Linked DNA regions of Homo sapiens. The protein of the gene in region 2 purifies or fractionates together with the protein of the main gene of each other region. This does not show direct contact. Each region holds a gene or a part of one and is shown on either strand. Other genes may lie near its edges.

The links. The genes of interacting proteins can lie anywhere in the genome.
Region 1: the proteins of NCBP3 (region 2) and THOC2 purify together in Homo sapiens (co-immunoprecipitation; 3 studies listed by BioGRID and IntAct, with this or other methods). This does not show direct contact.
Region 3: the proteins of NCBP3 (region 2) and THOC5 purify together in Homo sapiens (co-immunoprecipitation; 3 studies listed by BioGRID and IntAct, with this or other methods). This does not show direct contact.

The regions. Positions count from the first base shown.
Region 1 is NC_000023.11:123,600,069-123,604,052, reverse strand, and holds the end of THOC2 (THO complex subunit 2), read left to right. Parts: intron 1-304; exon of another isoform or gene 305-2,714; 3' UTR 2,715-3,484; downstream 3,485-3,984. UniProt on the Homo sapiens protein: Component of the THO subcomplex of the TREX complex which is thought to couple mRNA transcription, processing and nuclear export, and which specifically associates with spliced mRNA and not with unspliced pre-mRNA.
Region 2 is NC_000017.11:3,801,598-3,808,330, forward strand, and holds the end of NCBP3 (nuclear cap-binding protein subunit 3), read right to left. Parts: 3' UTR 561-6,733; downstream 1-560. UniProt on the Homo sapiens protein: Associates with NCBP1/CBP80 to form an alternative cap-binding complex (CBC) which plays a key role in mRNA export. NCBP3 serves as adapter protein linking the capped RNAs (m7GpppG-capped RNA) to NCBP1/CBP80.
Region 3 is NC_000022.11:29,515,758-29,522,757, forward strand, and holds part of THOC5 (THO complex subunit 5), read right to left. Parts: intron 5,343-7,000; coding exon 5,241-5,342; intron 4,348-5,240; coding exon 4,251-4,347; intron 3,364-4,250; coding exon 3,249-3,363; intron 1,610-3,248; coding exon 1,506-1,609; intron 1,360-1,505; coding exon 1,272-1,359; intron 1-1,271. UniProt on the Homo sapiens protein: Component of the THO subcomplex of the TREX complex which is thought to couple mRNA transcription, processing and nuclear export, and which specifically associates with spliced mRNA and not with unspliced pre-mRNA.

The DNA of each region.
Region 1 (3,984 bases), on a different chromosome or scaffold from region 2:
TTAATAAAACACTTAGGAGAATGTTGCAGGTAATGTGGTATAAATGTTAATAAGAAGAAAAATACTGCTTTGCTGAAAATAGAGTCCTGAAGGCTGAGTTTGGCACTGCTTCATCACTATGCAACTTTCTTCTTGATGACAGCTAGCTCTTTCTGAAGTTCAGTAAACTTGGGGGCAGTTTTCAAGTTTGTAATCCTAACACCTCAGCATTATTTTATTAAAATACTCTGTGGACACTGCCAAGAGACTGACATCCAGTATCTTCTTTCCACTTGCTCTTGTGGTTGCTGATTTGTCATTCCAGGCTATGGACAGACCCCCTAAGCCGAAAGTCTCCCAGAGGAGGATGCCAAAGCTCCGTGCGTCACTCTCAGAATGATATCTCCCATAATTAAGAGCTTCTGGTGCTGTCCATTTAATGGGAATCTGCTTTAAGTCAGAAGATGAGTACACACCACCATCCTCTTGACGAGACATTCCAAAGTCACTGATTTTCAGAACATTATTTTCACCTCCAGGCAGTTTCTTACAGCAAGGTCCCTGTGTATACATTTTTTACTCGAGATACACCATCCAGAATCAGCATCTAATGAAAATTTCACTGAGTTTTAGTTCATTCTTCTTTCTCTGAAAGGAGAGGAAATCGCCTCCAGGAACCAGTTCCTTAATGACGTAGATAGGCCGTCTTTGTGTGTGAACTCCTATACTTTTGACATTACTGGGATGATTATATTGCTTGAGGATTTTGGCTTCTAGTAAAAATTTTAATTTCAGTTCCTGGGGAAGACGTTCTTGACGTGTTTTAACAGCAACAGCAATTTTATCCTTTAATGTGACCTTAAATGTGTCACCAAAATTTCCCTTGCCTCTTGTAACGTGGCACCTTTATGATTGAGAACCCATTTCTTATTCTCCTAATGGCCATACTGTGATACCATGATGCTCTTAATTGGAACATTGACTTTTTTTTTTTTTGCAATTTAAACAATTGAGATAAAATTCATATAACATCAAATTTACCTTTCACTTTTTTTTTTTTCTTTTGGAGACCAAGTCTCGCTGTTGTCTCCCAGGCTGGAGTGCAGTGGCGCGATCTCGGCTCACTGTGACCTCCGCCTCCTGGGTTCAAGCAATTCTCCTTCCTCAGCCTCCTGAGTAGCTGGGACTACAGGCGTGCACCACCACGCCTGGCTAATTTTTGTATTTTTAGTAGAGATAGGGGTTTCACCGTGTTAGCCAGGATGGTCTCGATCTCCTGACCTGGTGATCCACCTGCCTCGGCCTCCCAAAGTGTTGGGATTATAAGCGTGAGCCATGACGCCTGGCCTCAAACTTGCCATTTTTAAAGTGTACAATTCAATGGTTTTTAGTATATCCACTATGTTGTGCAAGCATCACCGCTGTCTAATTCCAGAGCATTTCTGTCACCCCAAAAAGAAACTCCATGCCTATTAGCAGTCACTCCCAGTTCTTCCCTTCCTCGGCCCCTGGAAACCAGTAATGTACTTTCTGTCTCTGTGATTTTGCCTGTTTTGGACATTTCATTTAAATGGAATTATGCAATAATTTGTGGCCTTTTGTGTTTGGCTTTCACTTAGCATCATGTTCTCAAGGCTCATCCATGTTGTGGCATGTATCAGTACTGCATTCCTTTTTATGGCTAAATGATGTTTCATTGTATGAGTGTGTACCACATTTTATTTATCCATTCAGCAATTAATGGACAGGAACAATGGCTTTTAAGTATTAAATTGTAAGTTCAACATTAAATGTATCCACAGTTATTGATAATATCAAGATTATACATGGTGTGAACAGAATGCTGTGTCGAAATGGTATGTAAATTATTTGTCAGCATTTCATGTAAGTGATTATTTTCTAAGGACCCTTCTAGCCCTGGTTTTAAGAAATATGTGAATGTAGTATTTTCATCAATAAAGTTTAATGCATTAAGCATTAGCTTAAAATTTGAATGAAGGCAGATGTGAAGATATTTGCCACATGTTGTAATAATCATGTTTTGAAATTATTTCAATATGAAGTATTTGAAAAATGTCAATACATAAAGGAAAGGAAATGAGTATAATTAAGTCAATATATTTTTAAAGCAATTTTTATAATTTAGCAGACACTGCATCTTAATATAAGTTACTATTAAAATTGTGTCCTTGTGAAAAATGTGATGTCATTTTCCTTTTTTTGTTGATCATGTAAAATAGGTTACTTTTCTTTGCTACATTTTCTATTTAATAAGCTATTGCTTGCCGTTGTGGAATGTTTTACTTGTTGCTCCATTTTTTTCTCCCTACCCCCACCCCTCTCTCCCACACGCACACAATGTTCAATTTTTTTTTTAAGTCATCATTAGTGTGTTTATCTTTAATGGATTCTAAGAATGGACAAAAAGAAACACACAAATATTTCATCCTTTTCTGGGGACTCAAGTCTTTGTTACCGATGGAACTCATTAACTTCTTGTTCTTTCTTAAATCTTCCTCCCTCCTTACCTTTTCCTCTCCTTCCTTCTCTTCTTCTTCCTTTCTTCTCCCCTCCCTCCCTCCCTCCCTTCTTCCCTCCCTCCTCCTTTCATTCTCCTTCTCTCCTTCTCCCTTCCTTTTCTCCTACCTCCTTTGACTAAGCCTCCCTCCCCTACTCCCTCCTTTCCTTCCTTCCTTCCTTCTTCTCTATCAATATAATCACTTTGTTTCTTTCAGGTGAGATCGGACTGGAACTGTTCGGCTGCGACCAGAAATTTATTTTCCTGAGTAAATTGCCGAGAATTAAGAATGAAGAGGGCCATTTGCATCTCCTTAAATTATTCAGTTACCTGCTTTATTGCTCCATGTGGAAAACTTAAAATTGTTAAGTTGTGCATTACTGTATTTTAACTTGTTGCTTAGTTTCTACATGTTTATTTTCAGTAATGGCTGAAAGTGTTAACTGTTCCATACTTTTAGCACAATGTGCTGCATAAGGTTACCTGTGTACAGAGTTTTACTTTAGATTAACTAAATATTGCCTGGGTTCAGTTTTTATTTCCATTCTGAAATGCTTCCTTTTTATTGTTTGAAACTGAAAATAAACAATTGTTGAACCCTTTTGATTTTACCTCATTTTAAAACTGTTTTAATTTATTATTTGGCTTGTTCTTAATATTAGTCACTAAAAGCAGTGGGAGCATTGTCTTATGAAATGCTTAGGAATCATTTTATATAGTACATGTACAACATTAAACGTGTTTAAAAAAGAAAAAGGTACCAGCGATCACTTGTCCCTTGCCATTTTTTCTTGTAATTATGTTAGACAAATCTTGGCGGCGGGGGGATCAAAACATAATTGTTTTAATTCTACAGCTGTAGGAGCTTTGTATTGCTGAACTTTCATCTGGAAAAGTTTCACAGTGACATTTTTAAAAGAGAATTTTTTTATCTGCCGAATTCTACCAGTGTAACCTTTTTTCTAAATAAACAATAGTTTTCTCAAATGGTTGTATATTATTGTGTATATTGTTGCTTATTCAGAATAACTTAGCAAAGATAATTCATTAAGGTTCCTAGCCCTTCTCAGTTCTTATTCCATGGGCTACATTATTTTCCAGTGACATATCATCCAATAATAGGAAAATATCCTGTTTGATTACCTCTGTAGTTGGAGTAAACAGTGGACTTGGTAGCATGCCTGGATTTTTCCATTTAGTCTTCAGTTCCTTGGAAACGATACCTATGCAAATTAAAATTTTCAGAGAATGACAAAAAGGATATAACTTTTTAAAGAATTGAGAATTACTGAGCATATTTTAAATGAATTGGCAAAAGGGTATAAATCTTGATGTCTCTTTTCAGGTAATTGTAATTTGCAAAAATCGATGAGCAGAATATTTATGGGAGGGTGATATATTCAGTGACTGTTGAGTGCTTATAATGTGCCTGACATAAAAATAGATGTTTTGTTAGAGTGATTTTTGACTTTGAGAAAATAACTATG
Region 2 (6,733 bases):
CGGTGGTGGTTGCCTCAGCACTGAGACAGGCGTCCCCCTCCCATAGGAAGTGCCTCCCCAGCCAAAAACTGGGCTCTTGTACCAGCCCATGCACTCAAGGCCCTGGGGTTCTGGAGGGCCAGGTGAGTGGAAAGACCCAACGCACTGAGTGAAATCACTGCCTCGATTCAACTTCGGCTGCGTTCATTCTCTTTAAAACCAGGACAGCAACCTGACGTGGAAACTGACTGAACAGGACTCTGAGTTACCAGAATAACAGAAGTAAAATTCTATACATCTTCCAGCATACCTGTGATGCATCCCAGCATTCCACAGAACACGCCGTTGACAGCTGGCAGTCGTGTTTAAGTGCTGATCTGAGATCTGTACTGTGTGACCAAGTCTGTGACACAGAAGGAACTCTCCTGCACCCCTGCTCCCCAGGCTGCTGGAAGTGCAGAGTGGCGCCGTCAAACAGAACTCTGCGCGGGGATGGAACTGCTCTAGGTCGACGCTGTCCAGGATGGTACTCATGAGCCACATATGGTACTAAACCCTTAAAATGCCACTAGAACAACTGATGAACTGAATTTTGTATATTTTATTTAATTTTAATTAAACGTAAAAAGGCAGGACATTCCAAGGCTCTCTAACACGAGTGTCTGCAGCCCCATTCGCTTTGAGATGTGAATGTGTTAACCCAGGGTGGACAATGGTGTTGACTTCATTACTAGATAAAAATCCATGTTATTTTGTTTCTCGCATTGAAAGGCTGCTTGGCTAAGGTTCTGTGAAGATCCGATGACATTTCCAACACTTTGCCTTGTCTGCTTTGCTCTGACAAAGTGCTTATGACTACTAGATCTTGCTCGGTTATGTGAGATTACAATTCACCGGTTTCCATCCTGTATGAAACAGAAGTTAAACAGTTGTAAAAGCAAAATTCCAGGTCTGGTGGTTTTCCTGCCAGGTCATGATGAAACCATCCTACTTCTGTTGAACCTCGTCCCAGGCAGGATCGGGGCCTGCGGCCTACAGCCTGTCTTCCCAGCGCTCCAGGGCTCGTGACCCTCCTCCTCCCCTCACTTCATTCTGCGCTCCAAGGGCACTGGGGAGAGTCACAGTGGTCTCCTCTCCCCCGCATTGGCCTAAAGCAGGAAGAGAGCAGCCCAGTCACTGAGCAGATCCCTGCTAGGGCAGGGCTAGAACCCAGACTGCAGCTCACTCGAGATTCCTGAGAGAAGACTTTGTGTTTGGAGTGTGAACGTCAGGGTGCCTCGGGAAGCCAGGGAAAGCTGATGACTGGGTGCTGGACAGGGAGCAGGGCCACTTCTGTACCTCTGCACACTTCTAGAATGCGGACTCATCCTGCATCCATCCAGTATGTATTTATCCAAGCGTCAGTGCCTCTAGTCATGAGACACACAGGGGTCCGTAAAGCCCACCTGGCGGTAGCTGCTTTCCCCACAAACCCAAACTACATCCCCAAGGTCAGGGCCAGGCTCTGTTGAGTAATGCTCCCCATCACAGCACGCAGCACAAGGCTGGCTGTTTGACAAATACACACATAACCAAAAGACATGTGAATGTGGTTTCCCAACTCACTTTAAACAAATATTCCGGGACCAACTTCAAGGACGTTCTACAACAGAAACTGGACTGTACTCTTCACAAACATCAATGTCATGAAAGACAGAAAGGCTGAGGACCTGCTCCAAACGAAAGGAGGCTGCAGAGAGGACAACTAAAGGCAGCGCTTGATCCTGGATTGGATCCTGGACCAGAAAAACAACGGCTTTCAAAATCATTATTGGGACAGTTGGCAAATTTGAAACAGGAACTACAAATTAGCAACTCCTGGGCTGATCAGAGAATATTACACATTTCCTGAATTTGAGAACTGTACCATGGGCATGTGAGAGGCTGTCCCTGTTCTTGGGAAATGTTCACTAAAACATCTTACGGATAAACGAGCATGATGTATACAAATAATCCTCAAATGGTTCATGGTTCAGAGAGGATAGGAAGAAACAGGGGTGAGGGAGAAGAGGAGGGAACGAATGAAAGAGAAAATGTGGCAAAATGTTCTTTGTTGTACCCTTCAAACTGCTGTGATTTTGAAATTATTTCAAAATAAAGTTTTAAATATTTTAAAAAATTTTTTTCTTTCTCCCCTTGATACCAGGAAGAATAAAGTTTTTAAAAAATGGGCAGGTGGGCCAGGCGCGGTGGCTCACGCCTGTAATCCCAGCACTTTGGGAGGCCGAGGCGGGCGGATCACAAAGTCAGGAGATCGAGACCATCCTGGCTAACACGGTGAAACCCGGTCTCTACTAAAAATACAAAAAAAATTAGCCAGGCGTGGTGGCGGGTGCCTGTAGTCCCAGCTACTCAGGAGGGTGAGGCAGGAGAATGGCGTGAACCCAGGAGGCGGAGCTCGCAGTGGGCGGAGATCATGCCACTGCACTCCACTTGGGTGACAGAGCGAGACTCCGTCTCAGAAAAAGTGGCCAGGTGCACTTGTAGTCACAGTTACTTAAGAGGTTCAAGCTACTTGGGAAAGCTTGAGCCCAGGAGTTTGAGTCCAATCTAGACAACATAGTATGAACCTGTCTCTTTAAAAAAAAGTTGCAAAATGTTCATGGATGGAGGAGACGTGCTCGGCGTGAGGTGAAAGGGCTGCCTGTGGGTCGGGCGTGGTAGCTGACACCTGTAATCCCAGCACTTTGGGAAGCCGAGGTAGGCGGATCGCCTGAGTTCAGGAGTTTGAGACCAGCCTGGGCAACATGGTGAAACCCTGTCTTTACTAAAAACACAAAAAATTAGCCAGGCGTGGCAGCGTGTGCCTGTAGCCCCAGCTTCGGGAGGCTATGGTGGGAGAATTGCTTGAACCTGGGAGGCGGAGGGTGCAGTGAGCCGAGACTGCGCCATTGCACTCCAGCCTGGGCGACAAGAGCAAGACTTCATCTCCAAAAAAAACAGAAAGGGCTGCCTGCTGTCTTCAGAGTGAGTCAAAAGCACTGAGGCACAGCCTTCAGACACAGGAAATGGTTCTATTCTCCCACTTGCCTTCTGACTCTTAGGAAGCCAGAAAGAGTGACGGCATTGCTGAGACCAGAGCCCAGGGCTGCAGAGCAGTGGTACTCACGACCTTTGAACACTCGGTAGGAGTGCCCTGCTCAGTGCCAAGGCCTCACATGCGAGCCCTCATCTGAGCCTCTCAGCCACCTACAAGGTCAACCCGATTTCTCAGATAAGGATGCTGCCTCTGAGAGGCCACATAGCTAGTAAGGAGCAGAGCTGGGACTCCAAACAGGCCTGTTTCCTCCAGAATCAGGACTCTGAACCACCACAAACTCTCCTGCCTTCAGCTCTTTTGGTGTGTAGACTTTTTTTATTTTTGTTTTTGAGATGGAGTCTTGCTCTTTCATCCAGACTGGAGTGCAGTGGCACAATCTCAGCTTACTGCAACCTCTGCCTCCTGGGTTCAAGCGATTCTCCTGCCTCAGCCTCCCGAGTAGCTGGGACTACAGGTGCCCGCCACCACACCCGGCTAATTTTTGTATTTTTAGTAGAGACGGGGTTTCACCATGTTGGCCAGGCTGGTCTCGAACTCCTGACATCAGGTGATCCCCGCCTCGGCCTCCCAAAGTGCTGAGACTACAGGTGTGAGCCACGTGCCCAGCTAGGTGGTGTGTAAACTTTAAAAAAGCAGAGATTTCATCCCACAAATGCAGACTGGGATCTCCACATGACCAGGTGCTGTGGACTGAACTGTAAATGTCCTCCAAATTCATATGTTGAAGCCCTAACCCCCAATGTGGCTCTTCTTGGACATATGGCTTTTAGGAAGTAATTAAGGTTAGATGAGGTCATAATCCAGCAAGATTGGTGGCCTTACAAGAGCCATGTGCAGGCACCAAGAAAAGCCTACGTGAATAAGACAGCAAGAGGGTGCTCACCATGTTGGCATCCTCCGGCCTCAGATCTGTGGGGGACTGCGGGGGTGATGGGACAGGGAGAGAACAAGGAGTGGATTTTCTTGTCCTTTCTAAGGAAGGGGCTGGGAGGGCGAGGGCTGCACTGGGTGCTGGGACCAAGGGTCCAGGGGCTTGGATCTCTTGTTTACAAACCCCTACTTCTTTCCTGCTATCTAGCCCACACCCCTGATGCTCCCCGGAAAGGAGAGCAAGGATCCTTGAACACGCGTTAGCACTAGAAGGAAACTGGAGCTCACCCCAGTTGAGCCCTCCATTTGACAGACAGGGAAGCTGAGGCCCAGGGAGGTGAGGGGACTTGCTCAGTCTTTCCAATTGAGTATGTGGGGCAGAAGGAGTCCCCAGAGCCCCGGCCCCAGCCACCATCCTATTTGACTTTCCCCAACAGGCATTCTACCTCAGCTAAAGATGCTGCCTGCCTCTCACAGGCCCTGAGGAGAAGATGGCCACATCACAGGATCGAACACTACCACAAAACTCCTAGGAAGGGACAGGAAGGTGAGAATCCTTTCTTTTTTTTTTGAGACGGAGTCTCGCTCTGTCGCCCAGGCTGGAGCGCAGTGGCGCGATCTCACCTCACTGCAACCTCTGCCTCCCGGGTTCAAGTAATTCTCCTGTCTCAGCCTCCCAAGTAGCTGGGACTACAGGTACCCACCACCACGCCCAGCTAATTTTTGTATTTCTAGTAGAGACGGGGTTCCAACATGTTGGCCAGGCTGCTCTTGAACTCCTGACCTCAGGTGATCCACCCGCCTCGGCCTCCCAAAGTGCTGGGATTACAGGCGTGAGCCACCAAGCCCGGCCTGAGAATTCTCTTCTGTCAATGGTGTGGGCCTCTCGACCTCACTAACCTATATTGGCCCAGAGGTGATGGTGACAATTTGAGATAACACAAAGTCTCAACTATTTACGAACCTGGTCATCCAGAGAGGGCCCCGGAATTGCTCAAATGAACAGTAAGAATCCTGAGGCAGGGTACTGACCTTGGTAGGTGAAATACCGCCTATACTCTCAAGTTTTATGGATAGTGCAGCCAAATTCCACTCGGATGCCTCACAACTACTTAAAATTGGCTTTTTGAAGCAGCATTTCCCTAACTACTCCCAGGAACAAAGTTCTGTGAAATGTTCATAGAGCTTCATTGAAAAAAAAAAAAAAAAAAAAGCTACAATATTTTTCTTCTAAGATTTATTTTATAAACATGTAAGAAAAGTTGTAGATATTTATTGTGGGTCTGGTTATGCAAGAACAATCTTCCTGGACACAGTGTGCGATTCTCAGTATCAAAAGCATTCTCTTCTTTCAGTTCGTAAAAGAAAAACATGGTTTAACTTCTAATTTACTGCTTATTATAAGGTTTAAAAGCAATTACTGTACTTATGTATCGAACTTATTTGTGTAGCAACTAATTCATCTGTGAAGCCATGGTTTGCTGTGGCTTCACAGTAAATTTTGACTTAAGTCTAAAGCGTGTGTTAGCATCTCACCGTAACTTAATGCTTCGAGTGAGAAGTTTGAGGAATGCTGCTTTAGGCAAAAGAGCCACTGGAGGAATGAGCTCTGCTCTTTTCACCTGCTCTGGACTGCTCTCACTTTCCTCACCGACAGGACCACAGGCTTAAGAACTGGCTCAGCAGTCCTTCTTTAGGGTCTAGCGCCTGCCTACCAGCTTCCTCTACTTCTATCCCGGGACAGATGAATGCTTTTCTAAAAAATATTTTGGACCATCTGCATGATTCCCTAGCAAATGCTTTAGAGAGCTGGTAAGCTTCAGCTCCGACATGGCCAGATCATCAAAATTTGAAGTTTACTCAGGTCTATTTAATGAGATTTTTTTTTCTTATACAACCATATGCACTTCTGAATAATCTTCCCTTTTTCGAATCTGGGGCTTTCATCTGGAATTAGACTAACCTGCAGACAGTGATGCCAGAACTGGGCTGGGTTACCATAATTCATTCATTTACCAAACACTTTCGAAGCACTACTTACTCTGGGCTGGCCTGATGAAAGGATACAGAGATAACACCACAAAGAAACTTGCTCATTAGGAGCTTGCTTACTGGCTAGAAAGGAAAATACAACATGAAAATAAAGCATTGTACGTACATGGCAGAAAAATGACTAGCCTGCCAGAGGGCCCCAGAGCCTCAGAGGATGGAGCCACTCCTGAGGCTGGAGGGTTTACAAACTCATCCCATCTTTACAGAAGACCTGCTAGATGCCAGGCATGCTGGCAGGCACAGGGGAAAGCCCACTCAACAAGCAGACACGGTCCCTGCTCTCACGGAGCTTACAGTCTAGCAAGACAAACTAGGAACAAGAAATTACAGTCCAGTGTAGAGGTGTGCAGGGTTGTGGGGTACAGTGATTTGGCATTATACACACATTTCGCTTAAACACAATGGTATTTGTCTGAAAAAGATTTAAAAAAAGAAAAACAAATCAGTTGTTTGGGCCATTCCGCTGGCCCCTCCTTCACTCCATGAGCATAGACAAGAGGGCGGGCCCGGGCAAGCTCATGCCTCTGCTGCACCTGCGGCCTGCCTCAGTTCCCAAGCTCCCCAAAAGTGATCTTCTCGCCTAAATGTGGTTCTAACACCCCAAAACAAGTGATTTTTGCACAACACAGCCCTAACTGCAGGCCAATCACTTCACCTGGTACTCAACCAAACAGTAATGTGTTCCCACATGGGCAAGAAATGACTACATGGGACCTCAAGATGTTGGTCTTCAATAGGGCACCTTCCTTAGAT
Region 3 (7,000 bases), on a different chromosome or scaffold from region 2:
GCAGTTGAGGCTGCAGTGAGCCATGACTGAGCCACTGTACTCCAGTCTAGGCAACAGAGCAAGACCCTGTCTCAAAAAATAAGTTAAATTAAATTTTGAAAGGGGAGAGGCCAGGCATGATGGCTGATGCCTACAATCCCAGCACTTTGGAAGAAAGGCCAGGAGTTTGAGACCAGGCTTGGCAACATAGTAAGAACATGCCTCTACAAAAAAACAAAAACAAAAACAAAAAATCTTAGCTGAGCATGGTAGCATACCTGTAGTCGCAGCTACTCAGGGAGCTAAGGTGGAAGAAGGATTGCTTGAGTCCAGGAGTTCAAGATTGCAGTGAGCTATGATCGTGCCACTGCACTCCAGCCTGGGCGACAAAGCAAGACCTTATCTCTACTGAAAAAAAAAAAAAAAAGGGTGTAGCGGGGAAAGGATGGAAAGCAAATGCATAAAATCCAAATAGTGGTCACTTATTAGGAGAAAGGGAATAAAGTGGGATAGGGAGGCCTCAACTGTATCTGAAATATTCAGTTTCTTCAGAATTTTTTTTTTAAAAGACATGAAGAATAGAAAGAGAAGAAAGTGGGGTAGTGAGGACAGAAACTCTGATACCAAAGAGTTCAGCCTTTCCTTACAGTTCTGGAACTGTCTTAGAACTACAGACAACTTCCTCAGCTCAGCACCAAGTCTTGAGGGTGTCAGATCCCACGGGCAGTGCCAGGCTTGCTGCGGCTTGGGTGGGACAACAGCACAACGGCCCAAACACAACATCCCAGGACTTCAGCAGGGAGCCCTGGCAGAGTCAGATGCCAGAAGAGGTATGAAGAATCAGAGCTTTCAATGCCTCTAAAGTGAGTGCAGGGACTGCAGAAGAGGGAGCGAGGCCCTGTGGCCCTGCCCTTTACAACCTGAGGGTGACACCTCAGCCCTGTTATGAAGAGGGAGAAGGAGGAGATGTCCGGTACTAGAAAGCGGTGAAGGAAGGAGCAAAGAGCTCAGGCTCAGCGCTCAGACTGGGCTTGCAACTAAGCCTGAATTTCCTCCCATGTAAAATAGAAATGAAAGCACCACCCCTAGGACTGCAGTGAGGGTTCAGTGATACACAGCGTGTGTGTGACTGTGTTGCAGAATGAGTCCTTGCTGAACAGGCTCTCACGATCATTATTATCTGTTAAGTCCTTGCAGGACTCCAGGATCTTCTGCTTTGGGCAGCCCCGGAGAGTGTTTGATTCTTGGCAGCGCCCTTTGTCTAGAACCCCTGTAATCAGCAGAGCAATTACCTGTGCCCCTTTCGATGAGCGCCATGTAGTAGAGATTGGTGTCCCCAGCCAGTCCCGCATCCACAATGTCTTTGGTGAAGTGCAGCTCCTAGAAGAGGTACCACAGACAAGAGGTGAACTGCTGGCTCCTCTGGTTAAACCCCCTGCTCTTCCAGTGAGGTGGCAGGAGCTGAAAGGTGACATGGTCCTGCAATCCTCAGGACAGTAAGGGTAACTTGTCACTCCTTCACCTACCATGTAATCCTCATGGGCAACTGTCACCCATTTCACCAGGCGAGAGACAACCTTGGCAGGGAAGAGGTACTGGCAATCACTGGTAACTGGCACAATGCCATGTTCTAAAAGAGAACAAGACAGATGACGTCACAGGTAGAAATCAGGTGCCACAGATGGGTAACTAGCATCCTCCTGGGGCTCTCTGAAGGGCTCAGATGGCCCGGCCAGCTATCCTGGTATACCTGGTACTCAGGAAGTACCCAGGTCAACACGTGCCAGGAATGCAAGCATGTCAACCTGACCTTCACCCAGTGCTATGTGCTTGTGGCCAGATCCAGTGCCAGCACTTATGGTGCTTTCTCTTTAATGCAAATGATAGCCTGCCAAAGAAAAACCCTTACAGTCAGAACTAGGGAGGGTGCCCCTGCAGCAGTGACTGTTAATTAGATCAAATAGCATAGAGGCCTGTGTTTTCATAGCTGACCTTGATGGAGGAAACAACTGAAGTGTTGTGTGTCAGGGAGAAGAGCCAGATAACTGCTCCAGGGTAAATTCCTGCTGGCATTTAAATAAGCAAATATGCCAACACAGTAAGTACTGTCCAGAATGACAAGTTCCCTACCTTGGGACAAAACAAACTCAGCAGTGCTGATGGGGAGCACGGCCCGATGGACAAACATCAGTGCTCTGGAGAGATCGGCAGCCATGTGGAGTCTAAGAACTGGTGGGGAGTGGTCTCCAGATGTGTCCTGGAAACCCAATGCCTTTCCTGACAGAGACTCTTTTTTATTTTTTACTTTTTATTTTGAGATGGAGTCTCGCTTTGTTGCCCAGGCTGGAATACAGTGATGCGATCTCAGCTCACTGCAACTTCCGCCTCTCAGGTTCAAGCAATTCTCCTGCTTCAGCCTCCTGAGTAGCTGGGAATACAAGTGCACACCACCATGCCCAGCTAATTTTTGTATTTTTAGTAGAGACGGAGTTTCACCATGTTGGCAGGCTGGTCTTGAACTCCTGACCTCAAGTGATCTGTCTGCCTTGGCCTCCCAAAGTGCTGTGATTACAGGCAAGAGCCACTGCGCCTGTCCCAGAGACTCTTTTAGGTCAGAAAAATCTTGACCCCATCCCCCTGCCACATGGTAAGCATTTGACAACCACTTACTGAGTGAATAAACTAAAAGAAGCCCCCAAATGCCACCACCTAAGTCAGTGGCTCATCATTATCACTTGGGAGCTTAGAAGAAAACATAGGCTCAGCCTCACCCTGGGGAACACGAGGTCAGTAGGCCTTGGGGAAGGGATATGCGAGTTGCTCCCTGGATAGCTATATTCAAAAAGCTGACTGTGAGCCACAGAGCCAGGGGCAGGGGTTCACTGTGCTCAGTTCTTCCCCCAGCACTATGCTCAGTGCCTGGCATGAATCAGGATCTCACTAAATATGTGTCGAATGCACATCAAAATCTGCAATGCATGACCTAGGATGAACTGCCCCGACCAGTCCACAAACTTGTGCCACCCAATGGCTCTGGGCCTCCTCTGTGAGGCAGGACAGCACTGATGGCTCTAAGGGGGAGCTCGGTCCTCTGCCTGGACAGGCCTGGAGCTCTCCCCAGTGGCTCTGCCAAGATGCCCACTCCGTAAAGCCAGGAATCCAGGTCTTGTATTTGTCATCAGGATTCAAGTTTTGAGTGAAAGGCTAAGTTGTTGTTGTCCGTGTGTTGTCTGAGTGACTCTTAAACCACTGCCCCATCATCAGCTTACCTAGGGATGCAAACTGTTTGTGGAGGGCCAGGCGGGACTGCACCCTGGTCTTCAGAAGTTTCATGGTGGTCTCCATGTGGCTGGCGCTCAGCGAGTGGTCAGCAATCACTGTTTGCTGTGAGTGACAATGAGACACATACACGTGTGCTCCCCCATCCCTTCCTCCGGGCACCATCTCTCTCCTGGGACCTGCCTGTCTGCGGCACCCTGGATTATCCATGCCCCAAGATGGGTACCCTTTAGACATGGCAAGGTTTATCTGCTATGACAGGCCAGACGCTGAGTCCTGGCAGAAACAACACAATATGCTGCGTTCTTGAGAAGCTGTGTCCAACTCCTGAGGAAAGGCAGGCTTCTGCTAAGGGGCCAGGCCCCCTGGATTTCTGCTCATGCCTCATATTTGGTACTTGCACACAAGAACAAGGGCAGCAGAGCCTGCAGACATGAGTCCCAGAGCAAGGACTCAAGTTGCCTGGGTCTAAAAGGCTACTAGGCTCAGAGAAAATGCAAAAGGTACGTAAACTCTTGTAAGTCTAAGACATTTTAGTGTCCTGAGTGGATAGAAGACAGGTCACAGCCCTGAGGGGACACATTCTGCCAGTTCAAAACTCCAAAGGCCATGACAGGCCTTTTTTTTTTTTTTTGAGACGGAGTTTTGCTCTTGTTGCCCAGGCTGGAGTGCAGTGGCATGATCTCAGCTCACCGCAACCTCTGCCTCCCTGGTTCAAGTGATTCTCCTGCCTCAGCCTCCTGAATAGCTGGGATTATAGGAACGTGCCACCACACCCAGCTAATTTTTTGTATTTTTAGTAGAGATGGGGTTTCATCATGTTGGCCAGGCTGGTCTCAAACTCCTGACCTCAGGTGATCCACCTGCCTCAGCCTCCCAAAGTACAAGGATTATAGGCATGAGCCACCGCACCTGGCCTGGCCTTTCTAGAGTCTATACAGGAAGAGAAGAGGTAAGCTCCTCAGCCAACTAGATGAGATCAGTGTACAGACCTGGGGCTGCTCTTTGGGGAAGTGGAGGCCACCCAGCTTCTGCACCCACAAATAGGGGTGACCTAGCTCAAGTACATAGTCGCTCAAAGTCAGGATGCTGCAGAAAAGAAGATAAATAAAATTGTGCTGTAAGTCATTTCTGCTGTGGTCCCAGGATACAGCCTCCTCCCACCCTCCCATGCCCCACAAACCATCCAGTCCTGCAGGTTTGGCCATGTTCACAGCCAGGCTGCTGGCAAAGCCCTTCAACTTTGTCAGTTCCCTACTGTGAATTTCATCTCTCTCACATTCACTTTCCTCTTTTTCCTTTTCTTCTTGCAGCCTTCAACTTATAAGCAAATATCAAATACAAAGGCAGTGTACTAATGTCTTTATTGGTCTACCAATTTAGAAAATCTTTTAAAAATTAATCCTCGGATAATTAAAATGTCAAACATTTTTATTGTATCACGTATTATTATGCTTCCAGAGGGTTTTTTTTGTTTTTCTTTTTGTTTTTGTTTTGAGACAGGGTCTGGCTCTGTTGCCCCCAGGCTGGAGTACAGCGACATGACCATGGCTCACTGCAGCCTCAACCTCCTGGGCTCATGCAATTCTCCCACCTCAACCTCCCCAGTAGCTGGGACTACAAATGCCCACCACCATGCCTGGCTAATTTTTGTATTTCTTGTAGAGACAGGGTTTTGCCATGTTGCCCAGGCTGGTATCGAACTCCTGAGCTCAAGGAATCCACCTGCTTTGGCCTTCCAAAGTGCTGGGATTACAGGCGTGAGCCACCACACCCAGCATGTTTCCGAGTTTTGATCCTTCCACCCTTTTTGTGATCTCCCTTTGCCTTGTAAGCAAGAAAGAACAAACATTTCCTTCTACCCTGTGGTCTTTCCTATCCTCTGGGTCACCTCTGGCCCTAACAGGTCTCCAGCATTTAGCTTGAGCCACCAGAGAAACTCAGAAGTAGAGAGCTCGGAGAGGAGGAAACTGCTGACTCACCCAACTTTATCAAACTGATACTGATTGGCTGGATTCGGAGTTTTCTTTCCATGATCCCCAGGATACAAGCAACTCAGGACTGAGTCAGGAGACAGCAAGTCACTAGAAAAGGAAAAACAGTAAGCAGTGAGAATGCAGCCAACATCTTTCTTCAACATAGGCTTGGGCATTTGGGGATGGTAATGCCACGTCTCACTGATGACCAATGCCACCATTTATTGAAGGCTTTCTGTGGGCCAGACCGTTTATATGCTTGAGGTCATTGCATCCTTACAACCCTATGAGGGAGGATTATCATTTCCATTTTATAGAGGAAAAACTCAAGGCTTTAAAAGATATGGCTTATTCAAGATCACACTGCTAGTAAGTGCTAGAGGTGGCTTTATATTGTCTGATCAAACAGACTAGTACTCTTAATCATTAATTTTTAAAAAACTCATCCCTTCAAGATTTATATGGTGCCTAAGGCCTTACCTCAGGGGAGCAAAGTCCCATGACACCATCAGTAGAAATAATTTCAATTTTCATAAAAGCAGAACAGACTCCTTTCTGCTACAGAGAGAACAAGTGTATAGCTTTGGTGCTATGTCTATCTCACTTTGACCAAATCTTATGCTCATCACAGGAAAAGGCCCCCTGTATGTTCCCAGAAAAAGATACAATCACATACACTGGAGACCCACAGCTACAAGCGGAGAGAAATAGTGACGCCACTGCCACCCACCTGGGATGGTTCGGGCACAGTTTGTCATTAAATGTGACAAGCAAAAAAGAGATAATGTGGGAGGGTAATGTAGTAATTTTATCACAAAGGATGACAAGGCCCATTCTTTCCCTGAACCAAAGGGGGTTCTCCTTCATCTTTCCATGGATAACGTCAGGAGCAACTTGGGCAGCACGTGCCGGTCCTGCGTTTTGGCCCCAGCATGCCTTCAGGAACTCCATGCTAGGACAGTGGAGGCTTCCAGCTCTTCCCTACTGTGTCTCACTGAGTATCCCTGTTCCCCAAGGTCTTTGCCCCCTTCACCACCTCAAATGGAGAACTGACTACCAAACAAATAAAACATTTCAGGCCAGGCACAGTGGCTCACGCCTGTAATCCCAGCACTTTGAGAGGCCGAGACGGGCGGATCATGAGGTCAGGAGATCGAGACCATCCTGGCTAACACGGTGAAACCCCGTCTCTGCTAAAAATACAAAAAAAAAAAAAAAATTAGCTGGGCATGGTGGCGGGCGCCTATAGTCCCAGCTACTTGGGAGGCTGAGGCAGGAGAATGGTGTGAACCCGGGAGACGGAGCTGGCAATAAGCCAAGATTGCACCACTGCACTCTAGCCTGGGTGACAGAGCGAGACTCTGTCTCAAAAAAATAAATAAAATAAAATAAAATAAAATAAAATAAAACTTTTCAGTCTTTTAGCAAGTGTTTAGGGACTATTACTAATAGATTGATTCAATCTATTAGTAAATAAATAAAACAGAACTAAAACTGCCCACGATGAAGGTTATTAATTGACAAAACCTGATGAAGGAATCACCTTCTTGGCAAAATTTATATCTGCAACATATGGCTAAGACAACTGAACTTGGTAAAAATGATGAACATAAAAGGAAAGGCTATTTATAGTCATAAAAATATAACACCAAAACAAAAAAACTTCTCAACCAGTCAAATCTTTGTTATAAAATTTTGATAAAAAGTAAGGGATTAAAAAAACCTTAGTGGCCGGGCGTGGTGGCTCACGCCTGTAATCCCAGCAC